Regions from separate parts of the Homo sapiens genome. Here region 1 is linked to region 2. The links come from fine-mapping of genetic effects on gene expression. A gene starts in region 2. The other region holds a variant in brackets. All regions are shown on one strand. Distances are between the middles of the regions.

Region 1 (5,000 bases), 22 kb after region 2:
TATTTCTCAGTTTTGGAAGCTGGGAGGCCCAAGATCGAGGGGCTGTGTCTGGTGACGGCCTTCTTGCTGCATTATAATGTGGGTAGAAGGCATCACAGGGTGTGAGAGCATGCATGAGAGAAGGGAAAGCGGGATGAACTCACCCTTTTATCAGGAACCTGCTCCTGTCTCCATTTGTGGCTGCTGGGGAAAGCAAACGGCCTGTGATAAGGAAATAATACATTCCTGAGGGCAGAGTGCTCAGGACCTCATCCTCTCTTGAAGGTCCCATCTCTTAACACTGCTGCACTGGGGATTATGTTTCCAACACATGCTTTTTGGAGGACACAGTCACACCACAGCATGTTGCTTCATTCTGCTGTTATTTTTGAGTACCCACATGGCCAGGCAGCCTGAGAGCTGTTGAGGGTACAGAGGTGAACAGAACAAACACCATCTCTGCCCTCATGGAGCCTAAAGCCCTTGGCCAGGGATTATGCAAAGCTCTGTGTGGGGGCACAGAAATGAGTAATCCCTCCCTGGCTCATGGAGGGAAGGGAAAGGTCAGTGAGGGAGGGTTGGGAAGATGACATGGAAGAGGCAGCGCTGTATCTGGGACTCATCTTGACGGGAGAGAATGGCAGTGAGTGGAGGCAGGGAGAGAATGTTTGAGGTGTGCCAGGAAGAGAAGATTCCTAGAGCCTCGTTCATTTCTCTGAGCCCAATGCCCTGCTCAGCCCTGCTCAGAGGCGTGGACATGTGGGCTGGGTTGGGTCAGGGACAATAGAAAAGCGGGGAGGACCTCATGGAGGAGGCCAGGAAGTTTGAGGCCGAGGGAATGAGGTAGACCCTCAGGCCTAACCTGTGCAGAGCTGGCTGGTGAGTGGCCTCCTGCTCCTGACCATGCCTTTCGCCTGCCTTGTCCTAGCGGCCTGCCATTTCCCCAGAGAACTTCCTCTCCGCATCCTGGACGCCCTGGTTCAGCCCTGGCACCCAGCAGGACTGCTCGGAGTATCTGAAGTACCTGCTGGATCGGTAAGGGGGCCAGGGCTACGCGAAGACTCCAGGTCTAGAGGGTCCTTGGGGGCAAGCCCAGTACCTCTGAGCTGTGTTGCAGCGTCCAGGGAATAAGTGTGCTGCCTCCAACATGTGGAGGGCGTGGAGAAGGGGTGTGCTGGAAGGGCAGGGACTGAGTGTGAGGGAGGTTTGGTAGATGCTGAGTGGAAGTGATCTCTGGGAGGTCATTGTGTATGTCTGCACACCGGGCCGTGCATCTTTGTCACTGCCATGGGAGCACATTACATAGCTCCAGCAAGTCTTTATGTAGGGCGTGTGGGTGAGTGTAGCAAGCGTGCTGTTGTGAGCATGTACGTGGATGTGTGGGTGTTTGGTGTGTGCATGTGTGTTTGTGTGCGTCTCAATGTGTGGCTGTTGGGGAAGGTAAATGGGCATGGATAAGCTGAGTGCCCCGGAAGGGGACCCGCATGTACATGTAGTGACTCTGTGCTCTCTGCCCCAGGCTGCACGAAGAGGAGAAAACGGGCACAAGGATCTGCCAGAAACTCAAGCAGTCCAGCTCGCCCTCTCCGCCCGAGGAGCCCCCGGCCCCAAGTTCAACCTCTGTGGAAAAAATGTTTGGAGGCAAGATAGTGACTCGGATCTGCTGTCTCTGCTGCCTCAACGTCTCCTCCCGGGAGGAGGCCTTCACGGACCTCTCTCTCGCCTTCCCTCCTCCTGAGCGCTGTCGCCGCCGCCGCCTGGGCTCTGTGATGCGCCCCACAGAAGACATCACAGCCCGGGAGTTGCCCCCACCAACCAGTGCACAGGGGCCAGGCAGGGTGGGTCCTCGGAGGCAAAGGAAACACTGCATCACAGAGGACACCCCCCCCACCAGCCTGTACATCGAAGGCCTGGACTCCAAGGAAGCTGGTGGGCAGAGCAGTCAGGAGGAAAGGATAGAGAGGGAGGAAGAAGGGAAGGAGGAGAGAACGGAGAAGGAAGAAGTGGGGGAGGAGGAGGAAAGCACCAGAGGGGAAGGAGAGAGGGAGAAAGAGGAGGAGGTGGAAGAGGAAGAAGAGAAGGTGGAGAAGGAGACAGAAAAGGAGGCTGAGCAGGAAAAGGAAGAAGACAGCCTGGGAGCGGGGACCCACCCGGATGCTGCCATCCCCTCCGGGGAGCGGACATGTGGCTCTGAGGGCTCCCGCTCCGTCCTGGACCTGGTTAACTACTTCCTGTCCCCCGAGAAGCTGACAGCAGAAAACCGCTACTACTG[C/T]GAGTCGTGTGCCTCCCTGCAGGATGCCGAGAAGGTGGTGGAGCTGAGCCAAGGGCCGTGCTACCTCATCCTCACACTGCTGCGCTTCTCTTTCGACCTGCGCACCATGCGGCGCCGCAAGATCCTGGATGACGTCTCCATCCCCCTGCTGCTCCGCCTGCCACTGGCTGGTGGCCGTGGCCAGGCCTATGACCTCTGCAGTGTGGTGGTGCACTCTGGAGTGTCTTCGGAGAGTGGTCACTACTACTGCTATGCCCGTGAGGGCGCTGCCCGCCCTGCCGCTTCTCTGGGAACTGCCGATAGGCCAGAGCCCGAGAACCAGTGGTACCTGTTCAATGACACTCGGGTGTCCTTCTCTTCCTTCGAATCTGTCAGCAACGTCACCTCCTTCTTCCCTAAGGACACAGCCTATGTGCTGTTTTACCGGCAGCGGCCCAGGGAGGGGCCCGAGGCTGAGTTGGGCTCTTCTAGAGTCCGGACAGAGCCCACCCTGCACAAGGACTTGATGGAAGCCATTTCCAAAGACAACATCCTTTACCTACAGGTGAGCTGAGCCGTGGGGCCTTTGATCTGATCTCTTGGTGGAGGGAGTCCAGTCCCACTACTGGCTTAGATAAGTCATTTCCCCTCTAAGTCTTTTTTGTAAATCCCATTCATCTGTTGCTCAGTGCTGGGTATATACTGGTGGCCCAGACAGACCTAACCCCTTACTTCAAAGTAACAGACACTGAGTAATGAATGACGCAGTTTATTTTTTAAGTTCCAGGGTACATGTGTAGAATGTGCAGATTTGTTACTTAAACGTGTGCCATGGTGGTTTGCTGCACAGATCAACCCATCACCTAAGTATTAAACCCTGTATCTGTTAGCTATTCTTCCTGAAGCTCGCCCTCCCCCGCCACCCCCCAACAGGCCCTAGTGGGTGTTGGTCCCCTCCCACCCCCACCAGGTGTCCATGTATTCTCATTGTTCAGCTCCCACTTATGAGTAAGAGCATGCGGTATTTGGTTTTCTGTTCCTGCGTTAATTTGCTGAGGATAACGGCTTCCAGCTCCGTCCATGTCCCTGCAGAGGACATGATCTCGTTCCTTTTTATGGATGCATAGTATTCTGTGGTGTATATGTGCCACATTTTCTTTATCCAGTCTATCATTGATGGGCATTTGGGTTGATTCCATGTCTTTGCTATTGTGAAATGTGCTGCAGTGAACATACATGTGCATGTATCTTTATAATAGAATGACTTATATTCCTTTGGGTGTATAGCCAGTAATGGGATTGCTGGGTCAAATGGTATTTCTGCCTCTAGGTCTTTGAGGAATTGCCACACTGTCTTCCATGATGGTTGAATTAATTTACACTCCCACCAACAGTGTAAAGGTATTCCTATTTCTCTGCAACCTCACCAGCATATGTTGTTTCCTGACTTTTTAATAATCACCATTCTGGCTTGCGTGAGATGGTATCTCATTGTGGTTTTGATTTCTCTAATGGTCAGTGATGTTGAATTTTTCTTTCGTACGTTTGTTGGCCACATGAATGAATGTCTTTTGAGAAGTGTCTGTTCATGTCCTTTGCCCACTTTTTAATGGGGTTGTTTTTTTCTTGGACATTTAAGTTCCTTGTAGACTCTGGATATCGGACTTAGGTCAGATGGGTAGTTTGCAAAAATTTTTTTTCATTCTGTAGGTTGTGTCTACTCTGATGATAGTTCCTTGTACTCCGCATAAGCTCTTTAGTTTAAGTGGATCCCATTTGTCATTGTTTGCTTTTGTTGCAATTGCTTTTGATGTTTCCATCATTAAATCTTTGCCTATGCCTATGTCCTGAATGGTATTTCCTAGATTTTCTTCTAGGGGTTTAATACCTTTGGGTTTTACATTTAAGTCTTTAATCCATCGAGTGAATTTTTTGTATAAGGTATAAGGAGGGGGTCGAATGTCAACATTCTGCCTATGGCTAGCCAGTTCTTCCAGCAACATTTATTAAACAGGGAATCTTTTACCCATTGCTTGTTTTTGTCAGGTTTGTTGAAGATGGTTGTAGGTGTGGAGTCTTATTTCTGAGTGAGTTCTCTATTCTGTTCCATTGGTCTATGTGTCTGTTTTTATACCAGTACTATACTACAAGGCTACAGTAAGCAAAACAGCATAGTTTGAAGTCAGGTAGGCATTAGGCTTCCACTTTTGTTCTTTTTGCTTAGGATGGTCTTGGCTATATGGACTTTTTGGCTCCGTATGAATTTTAAAATAGTTTTTTCTAATTCTGTGAATGTGAATGGTAGTTTAACGGGAATAGCATTGAATCTGTTAATTACATTGGGCAGTATGGCCATTTTCATGCTATTGAGTCTTCCTATCTATCTGTGAGCATGGAATGTTTTTCCATTTGTGTCCTCTCCTTCACTTCCCTTGTTAGCTGTATTCCTAGGTATTTTATTCTGTTTGTAGCAGTTGTGAATGGGAGTTTGTTCATGATTTGGCTCCCTGCTTCTTGTTGGTGTATAGGAATGCTAGCAATTTTTGCACATTGGTTTTTGTATGTATCATCTTGAGAGTTGCTGAAGTTGCTTAACAGCTTAAGAAGCTCCTGGGATGAGATAATGACATGATTCTGTATCATCTAGAAAACCCCATTAATGCAGTTAATAAGTGTGCTGAAGGAGGAGTACAGGGACCAGTTGAGTCTGAGGGGGAGGAGGATGCTTCGGGTGTGGGGGGAGGGGGTCCCACTACCCACGTGAGCCTCC
Region 2 (5,512 bases):
ACCTCAGCCTCCCAAAGTGCTGGGATTACAGGCGTGAGCCACCGCGCCCGGCCAGGTCTGCCTATCTTCTGTGCTGTGATTCTGCCTGGAAGAAGATGGCTGTTCAGGCCTTGTTTTTCCTGCCTCATCATGAACCCAGAATCTCTGTAACTCGGCAGGAAAGAAACTCCTGTCATGACTCACTGTGAATGTTGACAAAGAGAGGCCACTCCTGGGCCTCAGAAATGTCAAGGATGGGCAGAAAGAACTGGAGACAGGCCAGGCTCAGTGGCTCATGCCTGTAATCCCAGCACTTGGAAGGCCCAGGTGGGAGGATCGCTTGAGTTCAGGAGTTTGAGACCACCTGGACAACATAATGAGACCTCGTTTCTATAGAGAAAAAAAAAAATTAGCTGGGCATGGTAACACGTGCTTGCAGTCCCAGCTGCACAGGCTGAGGTAGGAGGATCGCTTGAGCCTGGGAGGTCAGGCTGCAGCAAGCCGAGATCACGCCACTGCACTCCAGCTTGGGCAACAGAGTAAGACCCTGTCTCAAAAAAAAAAAAAAAAAAAAAAAAAAAAAAAAAAAAGAAAAGAACTGGAGAGGCTGTGTGGGGTAGGGGCAGACCATGCATGGTATTCGGCATTACCTGGGTTTGCATTTGAATCATCCCCTGCCACTTACTAGCTGTGCAGCCCTGGGCACGTTCCTGGGCAGATGATGATGATCATAACAACAACAAACACTACAACGGCAATAATAATGGCTAACGTTTATTGAGCAGTTACTACCGTGCTAGGCACTCTATACATGTTAATCTCTTTCAATCTCACAGATTAAGTAGATACTATTATATACCTACTTTACAGACCAACCATACTGGGCCCTCTTCGACTTCTGCAATTTGGCATCTGCCATCCCCTCTGCCTGGACCTTGAAGACAAATCCCATGCATCGGCCAGGTCTCTCAGCTGGAATTCATTCCTTCTCCTCTGCATCTGCGGAGAATTTTAGTCTAACCCCTTACCACAGCCAACTTTACTTAAGTAGATGGATGCCTGGCTCCCTTGCTGGGGCTGGGGGTGCCCCTTTCTATATCCACAGAAGCACGTAGAATAGGGGAAGAGGAAGAAATTTCTCTCCTGTTTAGTCAGATCCATTTTCCCCACCTGGATTTTCAAAACTTTTTAATTTTGAAATGCTCTGTTCAATTTTCAATCTGGAATCTAAAGGGATGTGACAAGGCCGAGGTGATTACTTGGGAGTAAATGCAAGGAGAGTTTCCACTGCGTAAGGGAATGGACAGCACGTGGCTGGGTAAATTTCAAAAAAGACAATGCTCAGAGTGAGTACTGTGTTTTCCAGTAAGTGGGAGACTTCCCCACCTTACCCCACCGGAGAAAGGACTCTTTGCCTTGAAGCCCCTAGGACGACTACCCTTTCTTCACCTCCTCTTCCTGACCACCCCACATCAAAGAGCTGCGTCTATAATTCTGTCTTGCCCAGTCCATATCTCTAAGAAATCCGAAGGCTGCTCTATTACCATCACAACCCATAGGGAGGAGAGAAAAGGTGCTTCCTAGACACAGGGACCCCAGAATGAGCTGCGCAAAAGGCAGGAGGAGAGAAAGGTGGGCTGGAAGAAGGAGACCACGGAATCTGGCACGGCAAGGTATTCTTTCATCTGGCGTAGACCTCCAACAACCACTACCATCCCCCAGCCCCTTCCAGAACTTTCCTTCACCTTCTCGGCTCACTCTCACGCTTCACCTTGTGCTTTTCCTCCGGCACCAGCACCCCATTTCAAACCGCTCTCTTCCTATGTCTCCTCCAAACAGTAATTTATAAACACCGTGCTTTCAAATCCATCTCATTTCATCCTCACAGTACTATAGGAGGGCTGCCTTACAGGCTGTCATTCGGAAGGGTTGGGGGGACTGGTCCTGCCAGACAATTTGCGAAGGTCGGGGCATCAAAACTTTTCTTTCCTGCCTCCCACGCCAAGCTAAACCTCTGCCTCCCCGAGTGCAGGGAGAAAAGCAAGGTCTTTGAAGTAAGGAGTCCTGAGTGGTTTTAGGCAAGTCCCTTCGCTTTTCTGAGCCTCACATTCCTCACCTGTCAACCGCTATAGTGACGCCTCTACTTTTCAGGGCGTGGGAGGTCAATGAGATCACTGGTGTGCCGCACTGAACTCGGGGATGGACTCTTTATTTCCAGTCAGTAAAGGGAGGTGTTCTATGCATCACAGGCTTTTGCCCACGCCGCCACAGCGCGGCCGGCCCAGGGCTCTCCAGAGCGGGGCAAGTTCCCTGTCATCTGTGTCTCCGCCCTTCCTTCCCCAATCTCACCCAGGCTGGCCTCATCGGCTTGTTCCGCACCCACTCCCCAGCCCTACAGCCCCCACTCCGACCTGACAAGTGCCCCACCCCCACCTAGAGATCCCGCCTCTCCTTGCCCCACCCACCAAGGACTCCTCCCACAGTCCCGACCCTCATTATCCGGGCTTTTCCGACTATCACCATCCGCCCTTGCTCTCCCAACAGCCCCGCCCCTCTAAGAGCTCTGCCCACTTCGGCTCACCTCGCTCCGAAACGCGCCCCCTCCCCCGCACCACAGGCGATGCCATCCCCATTTCACAGATGGGAATGGCGAGGCTGGGATAGATTAGTCTCATGGTAAGACAGGTGCTCAGTGGGCCCACGTACCCTCGCCGGTAGTCCCCGAGCCCCGCGACCCCGGCCGTGCCGCACCCACCTCCTGCCCTCGCTCTGCAGCCTCTCCCTCCGCGAGCGGCCAGCGCAGCTTTGCGAGGGGGGCGGAGGGTAGGAGCCCAGCCCAGGGGCGTGGCGGTCCGGGGTCTGTGCGCTGCCTTCCGGGACTGGTAGTTCTCTCTGGGCTCCTCGCAGCTCGGCGCGTCGAGAGCGAACTCCATCTCCCAGGAGGCATTGCAGCGAGTTGCTCTGCGCCCCGCCTCGTCCCCGCCGGTGTCCGGCCGGCTGGCCTTAAAGGGGACGCGGTCAGAGTGGCAGCTCGCGGGGTGGCCCCCGCTCCGGCTCCGCCCCATTTCACGCACCTCGCCCCTCCCCATGCTTCATCCCGCAGCCCCGGGGCCGCGCCGCAGAGTCGGGCTTCCTGGATACATAGAGGCTTGTGCCAGGCGGGGTGGGAAGACTGGATTTTGCAGTGGAAGCAGCATCTCTTCCGTCTGGGACCTGGCTGAGGGCGTCCCCACCCTGGGGGGAGCAGAGGACCAGCCCTGACCTAGCCGGGCCCAGCCTCGTCCTGCCCGGCCTGAGCGCCCCGCCCAGCAGCCGGCTCTGGCCCACCGGGGTCCGGGAGGTAAGGGGGTTGGGGGCGTGTGACTGTCTTTGGGGGGCGGTGTCTGCACCCTGGCCTTTCGAGAACCCTGGACTTGCGAGCCCAGGGCTGGGAGTCGGGAGATCTGGGTGCATCCTGGGCCTCCTGGGCCTCACTGTGTGACCTTGGGCGAGTAGCTATTCCTCTCTGGGCATTAATCCCCTCCCTTCATCAATTGTATGTCGAAGTGATCCTGCTCCCTCCCCTTTCAGGTAAGAGGGCATTCGCACCCAGTACCTAGTACATTCGCTTGCTGGCTTTTCGTGGGGCCCTCCAGCTCAAGCGTGGGCTGGGCGCGGGTGCACTGGAGGGAGGGAGGTGGCACAAACTGGGGGGCCCGAGGCCACCATTGCTTGGAATGGGCTTTTCCTATTCTCAGTGTGCTGGGCCCTGGGATACCCTCCCCAACCCCCTCTTACGGCCCTGGCCCTTGCAAACCGGAGACCCTGATGTGTCAGCTTGGTGCCCTTCCTTCCAGAAAGCTTGGGGTGGAGTGCGGCCCTCACAGGTTTGTGAGGGGTGGCCCCGCAGGGATAGGTGTGTGTGGTGGGTTCCTGAGGAGGAATAGCTGCTCCTGCTTTCTTCCCTTCTCTCTCCTCCTTATCCTTTGAGGAAGAGCAGCTGCTTTTTACCAGTGAAACCCTTTTTTCTTTTTCTTTCCAGGAGACAGTTTGGTGGCCCAGACATGGGCCTCCCGGAGTAGGGTGAAGCACTTCTTCCCAGGGTTGCCTTGGGTAGAAGTTCAGTTAAAAAATACCTAGAGAGATGCTGCCATTCAGACACCTGAGGGGCCAGAGATGGAGGGCACCACCTGGTGTCGGGAGGGGCAGCCTGGTACCCCCAAGGAAGCTCTGGCTCCCAGGGGAGTCAAAGGAGGGAGGCTGGCTTCGAGGGTCAGAGAGGGGAGGAAATGTGCTCCTCAGCTCTTAGGTGCTGAGCAGAGGCTGGGAGGGGCTGCTCTGACCTGGAGCAGGGAGAGGTTGAGTAACACCATGAAGCCTTCTTCTCAGGTCCTAGGAGATTCTGTGAGCTTTTGACCTGAAGGCTAACCAGGAACAGATTTTTGTTTTGTTTTGTTTTGTTTTTGTTTTGTGCTTTTTCTTTTGCTTTGGTTGTTTGAACAATTTCTAGAATGGCTAAAGCCTCAGTCCAGTCCAGTGACCTCTGTAGGGGCTTTCTTGACTGATGTTTAAGATTTTCAGGGTTTTTGATATGCAAGACCAGGCCTGGGCAAAGGAGGGGGTGGTGACTGGACCAAAGGTTAGGCCAGTTTCTGGAAGGTACTTTTGTGGTTACATCTTTGGTTTTCTCTCATCTTGCTGTCACATGTCTCTCATGAGTTGCTTGACGCACCTTCACGGACACCTCAGTCCTTGGTTCTGTACTGGGCACTGGGCTCAGAGACGGGGATTGGACCTCTGCCAAGGGAGGTCCCAGCCTGGTGGGAGACAGAGACATGGATTCCAGTTATGCTGCAGAGGGATGAGAATAGCTAAGAGGGCCTTGGAGGCCAGAACTTTAGACACTTGAATTGTGGAGGGAAAAGGAAAGGCTTCCCAGAGGAGAGGGCATGTGAGCTGGGCATTGAAGGGTGAGTCAGAATTTTCCAGGAGAGAAGAGGGAAAAGCCCTTTTTCAGTAGAGGGGACATTGTGCAAAGTAGCAGTCAGGAAAAAGCCCCCTGCTCCAATGTCTGCAGAGTCTCCACTGAACAATGTTGCTTGAGTTCATCTCCACCCCTGCCCCACATCAGCTGAGTGTCACAGAAAGGGCTTGCATGTCCGGCTCAGGAGTTTGGACCTTATTCTGGGTCCAAGGGGCTGGAGAGTGTTGAGAGTTCTGAGCAGGGGCATGGACGGAATGGTGCTTACCGTGTAATAAGCTCCATCTGACGATGCTGCATCTGGAGAGACCAAGGAGGGATGATGAAGCTTGAGCGGGGGCCCAGGGCGTGGCAGTGGGGCTGAGCATAGGAGTTGTGTACACACACATACACACACACACACAGGGTGCTTTGGGGTGATGGAGATAAGTCAGGCTCAACTGTGCAGGAGCAGAGATCAGTCAACACTCGGCAGAAATGTTGAGGGTCATCCGAGAGGAACAGGTGAAAGGATCTGGGCCTTTTGGCAGAGGGATTGGGATTTTCCTGAGTGCTCACTGCGTGCCTTGGAGT

What was found. PIP is the estimated chance that this variant, and not a neighbour inherited with it, causes the effect.
Region 1: its variant is the best candidate, but not a certain one, in a credible set for the expression of USP35 in whole blood (TOPMed, PIP 0.80).

What each region holds. Positions count from the first base shown.
Region 1 is chr11:78,207,950-78,212,949 of GRCh38, forward strand. It overlaps USP35 (ubiquitin specific peptidase 35), which reads left to right. Exons shown (of 11, transcript NM_020798.4): 9 at 908-1,014; 10 at 1,499-2,795. Among named protein-coding and RNA genes, the nearest start is that of USP35, 22 kb to the left of the region's middle. RefSeq lists an enhancer at 2,410-3,036. The variant C/T (reference allele first, on the strand shown) is at 2,252.
Region 2 is chr11:78,185,839-78,191,350 of GRCh38, forward strand. It overlaps USP35 (ubiquitin specific peptidase 35), which reads left to right and starts at 3,081. Exons shown (of 11, transcript NM_020798.4): 1 at 3,081-3,319. KCTD21 (potassium channel tetramerization domain containing 21) reads right to left here and starts at 2,788. Exons shown (of 2, transcript NM_001029859.3): 1 at 2,735-2,788. RefSeq lists silencers at 2,505-2,844, 3,275-3,434.